Linked DNA regions of Homo sapiens. The protein of the gene in region 2 purifies or fractionates together with the protein of the main gene of each other region. This does not show direct contact. Each region holds a gene or a part of one and is shown on either strand. Other genes may lie near its edges. The genes, in order: GNA11 and RGS13.

Region 1 (3,386 bases), on a different chromosome or scaffold from region 2:
GGCCAGAAAAAGGCTGCCTTTGCCGTTGACAAAAGGTGAGAAGGTGCGCGAAGTGTACGGAGGGAGAGATGTACATCCCCTGATAACTGTGAAATAAAAACCATTTGTTAAAAATATGAAAAAAAAAAATCTCCTCCCGCGGGCAGAGGCCCCGGCCCGGACTCGGCAGCGCCACCCGCCCGGCAGCCGCAGGCTCCGTGGAAGGAAGGTCCTGCCCCGTGTCTCCATCCCGTCTCCCTGGGCCTGGGCGCTCAGACCAGGTTGTACTCCTTGAGGTTGAGCTGCAGGATGGTGTCCTTCACGGCCGCGAACACGAAGCGGATGTTCTCCGTGTCGGTGGCACACGTGAAGTGTGAGTAGATGATCTTGTCGCTGTCGGGGTTCAGGTCCACGAACATCTTCAGGATGAACTCCCGCGCCGCCTGGGCGTCCCGCTGGGGACCTGGGGGAGGGCAGAGGGTGAGGCTGTGCCCCAGCCCGGCCCAGGGCAAGGGACTCGTGGGCCCCTTTGTCACTCCCAGGGGATGAGCGAGTAAGGCCCACGGCCCACCCAGCTCGACCCCCAGCCCACTGCATGCCTGACGGGCCGCAGCTCCCCTCCCTCCCCAGGTGAGCTGCGGTGCCAATCCCACTGTAGCCCCAGGGCACTACTGTCACGGCCCAGGCCTCCAACCTGGGGCTCTGCACCCACCGCTGCTCCCTCTGCTCAGCCCTCTGCCGGCCTCTATCCACTCAGCTCCACAGCCACAGCCTTCCAGGGCAGGCCTCTGGCATGGCTGCCCTGCGAAGGCCCAGGGTGAGAGGAGAGGCCCCCAGGGCTGGGCACAGAGCCTACAGAGCAGGAACAGTGGCCCCCACCCACCCACGGTGCCCCTGCTGCAGCCAGGCCTCAGAGACATCCAGGGGCTCCAGCAGGGGCGCTGCTTCCCACCGGCCACCCCTGCCCCTCCACCACCCTGGACAATGCAGGCGACCCGCCCAGTAACTCCTGCCTGCCCCGGTGGAAAGGCCCCTGGGGGTGTTCAAGGGGCTGCTCTGGGGACTGGTGGGACAGGGGTCTATGCCCCAGTCCCTTGGCCTCCCCCCACCAGGGCTCTCTGAGCCCACAGGACAGGCTGCTGGGCAGGGGCCACGTGCGGCTGGAGCAGGTGCAGCGCCCCCCGCCACTCCCCTGCCCAGGGACAGCAGGGCCCTGCGCCTGCAGCCAGCGGCCGAGGCTATACCGTGTGCCAGACCCCTCCCTCTCGCTGCACATCCAGAGGCAGGGCACCCTGAGGGGCCCTCCCGAAGATGACACCCGAGACTCACGGGAGGAGCACAGATCCGGGGTGGAAATGAGGGCGCCAGAGCTGCCCAGGGCCTCACTGTGCCTGGCAGGGACAGCTCTGAGTGGTGACAGCACTAACGGCAGCCACTGACCACACAGACGAGGGCACACAACACCCTCCCCTGGCCGCCATCCCCAGGCCCAGAGAGGGCTGGGCATGTGAAGACCCTCAGTGCTCAGCTGCCCTGACACACCCCGTGGGGCAGGGGCCACGTAGGGAGGGACGGGTCCGAGGGTGGGGGCAGTAGGGCACAGAGGAGGATGCAGGGACTACCACCAAGGTCCCCACGGGGCTGCGCTGGCAGTGTGCGTGAACCCTTCCTGTGAGACCCCTCCCATATGGGATCACCTATACAGGACACCCCCATACGACAACTCCCTCCCGTACAAGACCCACCAATACAAGACTCCCCCTCCCATGGTGCCCTCCTTGTACAAGACTCCTCCCACCCGAGATCCCCCTGCCCGAGACCCCTCCCACCCGAGACCCCTCCTGTATAAGGAGTCCCTGCATTAACAGATCTCCCACGGGTATGAGACACCCGCGTCGGAGAACTCATTCCCGTACAGGCCCCCCTCATACGAGATCTCCCTTCCCTGAGACTCCACTCCCATACATGACACCTCCCATCAGACGCCCTCCCTTAGAGCTCCCGGCCTGTATGAGCCCCTCTCCCATATCAGCCCCCTCCCCCCAGTAAGGCCCTGCCCGCGAGCCCCTCCCCATGCCGCAGCCCGGCGCACCATCGAACTCGGGGAAGTAGTCCACCAGGTGCGAGTACAGGATCTTGTCCTCCAGCAGGTCCTTCTTGTTGAGGAAGAGGATGACGGAGGAGTTCTGGAACCAGGGGTAGGTGATGATGGTCCGGAACAGGGCTTTGCTCTCCTCCATCCGGTTCTGGCGGGAGCGAAGGCAGAGGGAATCAGAGGGGCCCTCCCCACTGCACACAGCCCAAGGGGCAGCTGGGGGGACCCAGGTGAGGGGACCCAGGCTTGGCAGGTGGGGAAGGCCCGGCCCCCAACGCTGCCCCTGCTCAGGGCAGGGCCCACCTCGTTGTCCGACTCCACCAGGACTTGGTCGTATTCGCTGAGGGCGACGAGAAACATGATGGATGTCACGTTCTCAAAGCAGTGGATCCACTTCCTCCGCTCCGACCGCTGGCCCCCCACATCCACCATCCTGAAAGGACACAGCGCCAGGACTCAGCCACCTGGCGCCCCAAGGCCCAATCTGCAATCCCAGGACGGCTCCCACCCAAGCCCCTCCTGCCACACCAGACTGACATCGGCTGGAGCAGGAAGAGCCCCCACTCTTAGAACGGGCAAGGACGCTCTCAGAGAGCGGCCGCACCGCCTCCAGGGGTGACCACCGCAGACCCTTCCCTCACTGGCAAAGGGGCCTGAGACCACTGGGCCCAGGGAAGCGGGCGCTAGTGTGGGGGTGTGAGAACCCAGAGGATTCTGGGCGCCAGCTGCTGCGGGAACCTGCGATGGGTGCCCAGGGACCCTACATCTGGCATCTGGATGTCACCCTGAGCACAGAAGCCTTTCCCCTCACTGGGCCAGGGACACAGATGTTCACCAAGCGTCACTCGCAGGAGTAAACACTGATGCCACAGTTGCTCCCTGCAGGGACCCTCCAGTGACGGCTGCAGAGGGCAGAGTTGCCGGTATCCTCCTGGGGCAGAAGAGCAGGCGCAGCGCCCTGCCCCGCGTGGTGAGCAGCTCAACCTCACACTCTCAGGCCACGCACAGGCGGGAGAAAGAAAATCAGCTCAGACGATGTCTGCGGGCGTGCGTTCCTTACGGGACGTTTGCCTCTTTCTACTTGTGACTTTTCTAAGTTTTCTATAACGAGAAAAGGCACTTTGGTCTCCTTGAAAGAATACAAAGGCAGAAGCGGAGAGTGCCCCTCAGGCCCTGGCCCCAGGCCCCAGGGAAGGCCGGGGTCCCTGCAACTCTGCCGAGGAGAGCGGGGCTGCTTTGGGCATGTGAGTGGTGAAATCCACCTGGTCTGGTCTGCGGGGGAGTCCAGCAGGCACCGGTGGATGACAGATGT
Region 2 (3,817 bases):
ATCCGAGAACATGGAAAAATATTGGGAGTCCTTAAAAGGTCAGATATCTTTTGTTTTCTAAAAATTCAGACGGATCCTGCCAGTTTTGGATGGACTGCTTGCATCAGTACTGAGGCTTAACAGTGTACTGTGTTAAGATTGCTTTCAAAAAACATTTCCATGAAATAGTATCTGAGTCATTGTTCTTTTCTCTTGTTAAAACTTTAGAAAAAGTAACCTAAAATAACCTTTTCAATCTGGTGAAATGGAAAGAGCTAGGCAAGGTTTATTGAATGCCTGTCCGTTCTAATCATTCCCATTATATAGGGAAGAATAAAATCTACAACACGAGTGAAGAGTCATCAATGTGTTGGGTTAGCTTAAAATTAAGTGTCGATGATTGTTGGTAAGAGAGTTCTTTTGTCTCTAAGACTCATGAGATTTATGGGGAGAGATGATTGGAGTAATTACGGTTGGGGGTAAAAATGGGAAATACAATTTGTTTTTAATTGAACCCCATTTTTGCTTATAATTTTTTTTGGAGGTTCTCACAAGTTTAATGCTGGCCCATGGCTATCCAGGTGCCTTTATTAGGATTATTTGAAATACCTTTTTTCCTGATACAAGTTCTCCCTTGTGTCCCCTCCATTCTTCTGGGCGGATGGGCAGTGGATACCAAACGGATATGAAAGCATTTTAAGATACCATGATGTTGCAGACAAAAGAATGAAGAATGTTTGGAGTCTCTGACAGTCCTAGGTTCTAATCCCAGTGCTGTACTTAATTGTCCTTGGTCTTACTTAAAATCTTCAAACCCCAATTTTATTGTCTATATAATAGGGATAATAACGTCTATCGCACAATGTTATAATGAAAATTAAATTAGGTCATGAATGCCAAGTACCTATTAAATAACTGTTATCTGGCAGCTTTCCATGAATGTGATTTTTAATTTTTCTGGTCTTCCCCTTTTCTCATGGTGAGTCTATAAGGCAGATAGAAGAAAGGCGAGCTCTGACAGTGATCCTCTATGGGAATCATTCGAAGAAAGGAGAGCTGTCCCTTAATTAGCAGATTATACCTTTGTCCTTGGATGCACCTGTGCAGTGCAGTAGCATTCACTGTCATTTAAAATGCTGAGCTTTGGGTCTTACTATCTCCTCTGACCACCATTGCAGCATCCTTCTCCTTGCCACACAGTAGCTTGTAAGCCTTTTTGGACATTTTGGTATTTTAGTGAAAGAGCATTCATGCCAGGGGCTCTGACCATACAAAAAGGTGTGGCCAGAACTGAGGGCTGGACATGGACTATGTTAGGCACTCATGGTTAATCTAACAGGGGTTCTCAACTTTTGGGAATTCTTTCAGGTGAGGAAATCCAATGCAATGGTCTGTTACTTTTCTCAGGCATTATTCTTTTCACTGTTCTCATCCAAATGGCAACATTTTGAGTTATAGAAAAGTGTGGAGGAAGAGACTTGGGAGCTTGGTTAACATTTGATTCCTCCTCCAGTCTCACCTTCTTTATCTAGGGATGAAGCTTTCTGGCACTTCGTATGTGGAGGGTTGGAACCAAGAAAATATTTTGGATTGAAGAATCTCATTTTAACACAAACAATATTCTTTGTTTTTTAAAAAGAACAGAGACTATTCATAATAGATTCTAAAGCATTTAACTTGCTGAATTCTCAAGTGTAAACCATGAATAATGAAAACAAGAATCTTAGTAACATATGACTGCTCTTCTGATGAAATGACTCACGTGTAAATGCAAATTTTACTTTCTGAACAAAATATGTTACAATAGCAGTTTAATAAATATGTACCTATTTATCATCTGATAAATATGCTTTACAATTACCATAGAAACTTAAATGCTACTTACTTTGAAGGGGGCCTCTTAGATTCATCTCTGCACATCTTACAAATCCAACAATTCCGCCTGCTCATTTTTCTAAGGAAATACAGTATATATTTGTATAATTTAATCATTTAAAATAATTGTATGTTACAGTCAGTTTCTAAGGAACATACAATATTATAAATCATAAAAAAAAAGATGGGCTCTTGAAGTTAATGGAATACAGTCACTGGGGGAGTTGGGAGGAGAGAGGAGAATAAAATGACTCATCTCTCATAAATATTTTATAAAAATATACGTGCTTAGATTTGTAAATGACTTTACTCAACTGGCCTATTTATTAAACAATGAGGTTCAAAAAATACCAAATCTCTGAAAAAGATCTTTTCATTTAGAACTTACCGATAACGAATTTACCAACTCCCAAGGCTTCCCTTTTGGGACAATTCTTATTTTTATTTTTATTTTTTTGAGACAGGGTCTCACCCTGTCACCCAGCCTGGAGTGCAGTGGCATGATCATGGCTCACTGCAGCCTTGACATCCCCAGTCTTAGGTGACCCTCCCACCTCAACCTCTGGAGTAGCTGGGACTACAGGCATGCGCCACCATGACTGGCTAATTTTTGTGTATTTTTGGTAGAGAAGGGGTTTCACCACATTGCCCAGGTTGGTCTCAAACTCCTGGGCCCAAACAACCTGCCAACCTCAGCTTTCCGAACTGCTGGGACTGTAGGCATGAGCCACTGTGCCCAGCCACAATTCTTGTGTTTAGAAAGCTCTCTCAATGTATTAAAAAAGAGCCTTATTTTAACTGGACAAGTAAAATAGTGTAAATAGCCAAATAAAAAATAAAGCACCTTCTGAGTGAATTTTAAGGGTGCTGCTTATCTGGTTTTATCTACTCTGGGCACAGTAACTTTGACTTTAAAATTCAGTTAGAGTTTATTCATCTCAGGCACCTTTACATAACAATACATATCATAGAAGGTTTTTAACTCAGGACTTTAAAAAAACAACTAACAAATTTGTTAAGAGTCATTAAATCCACATTTTAAAGCTGGAAATGGTTTGTTAAACATATATACATACATATATAATGAATTATTAAGGATAAACAGTGAATTTTTATATCAGTCTTTACGATTCATTCAAAAGTCTTTTGAATACTTGTTATGTGCCAAGTTCTGGCTGCCTGTGATCAATATACATCTTGTCTGTCCTCTTCTGTCCTCACTGACAAGCAATTAAAATACATGTGATGGGCTGGGCACAGTGGCTGATACCTGTAATCTCAGCAATTTGGGAGGCTGAAGCGGGGAGGATTGCTTGAGCCCAGGAGTTCTAGACTAGCCTGGGCAACACGGTAAGATTCTGTCTCTACAAAAAATAAAAAAAATTAGCTGGTCATGTTGACTCATGCCTGTAGTCCCAACTACTTGGGATGCTGTAGTGGGACAATCACTTGAGCCCAGGAGATGGAGGCTGTAGCAAGCTGTAATTGCACCACTGTGCTGTAGCTGGGGCAACAGAGTGAGACCCTATCTCAAAAACAAAAAACAAAAACAAAAAATCCCGAAATGTGATGGGGACTTGGATACAGGAAGTACAGGGGTTGTGAATACACCTAGGAGGAGAACCTAACTAGACTTGAGGGGTTAGTGAAGGCAGCCCAGTTAAGTAACATCTGAGCTGGAACCAGCAGGATATCCACGAGTGTGCTGAGTGAAGGAGGGGCAACTTGAGCAAAGATTAAGAGGCAATGAGTTATGTCCCATTGAGGAAATAAAAGGAATTTAGGCTCAGCACTGTGGCTCAGGCCTATAATCCCAACACTTTGCAAGACTGAGGCAGGAGGCTCTCTTGAGCCCAGGAGTTTGAGACCAACCTGGGCAGCATAGAGAGACCCTGTCTCTCCAACAAAAAGAAAAAAAAAATTAGCTGGGCATAGTGGTGTGCACTTGTAGTCCCAGATACTC

Evidence for each region.
Region 1: the proteins of RGS13 (region 2) and GNA11 purify together in Homo sapiens (affinity purification with western blotting, with the first as the bait; one study listed by BioGRID). This does not show direct contact.

Annotation. Positions count from the first base shown.
Region 1 is NC_000019.10:3,118,045-3,121,430, reverse strand, and holds part of GNA11 (guanine nucleotide-binding protein subunit alpha-11), read right to left. Parts: intron 2,508-3,386; coding exon 2,378-2,507; intron 2,226-2,377; coding exon 2,072-2,225; intron 443-2,071; coding exon 252-442; 3' UTR 1-251. UniProt on the Homo sapiens protein: Guanine nucleotide-binding proteins (G proteins) function as transducers downstream of G protein-coupled receptors (GPCRs) in numerous signaling cascades.
Region 2 is NC_000001.11:192,642,447-192,646,263, reverse strand, and holds part of RGS13 (regulator of G-protein signaling 13), read right to left. Parts: intron 1,934-3,817; 5' UTR 1,930-1,933; coding exon 1,865-1,929; intron 1-1,864. UniProt on the Homo sapiens protein: Inhibits signal transduction by increasing the GTPase activity of G protein alpha subunits thereby driving them into their inactive GDP-bound form. Binds to both G(i)-alpha and G(q)-alpha.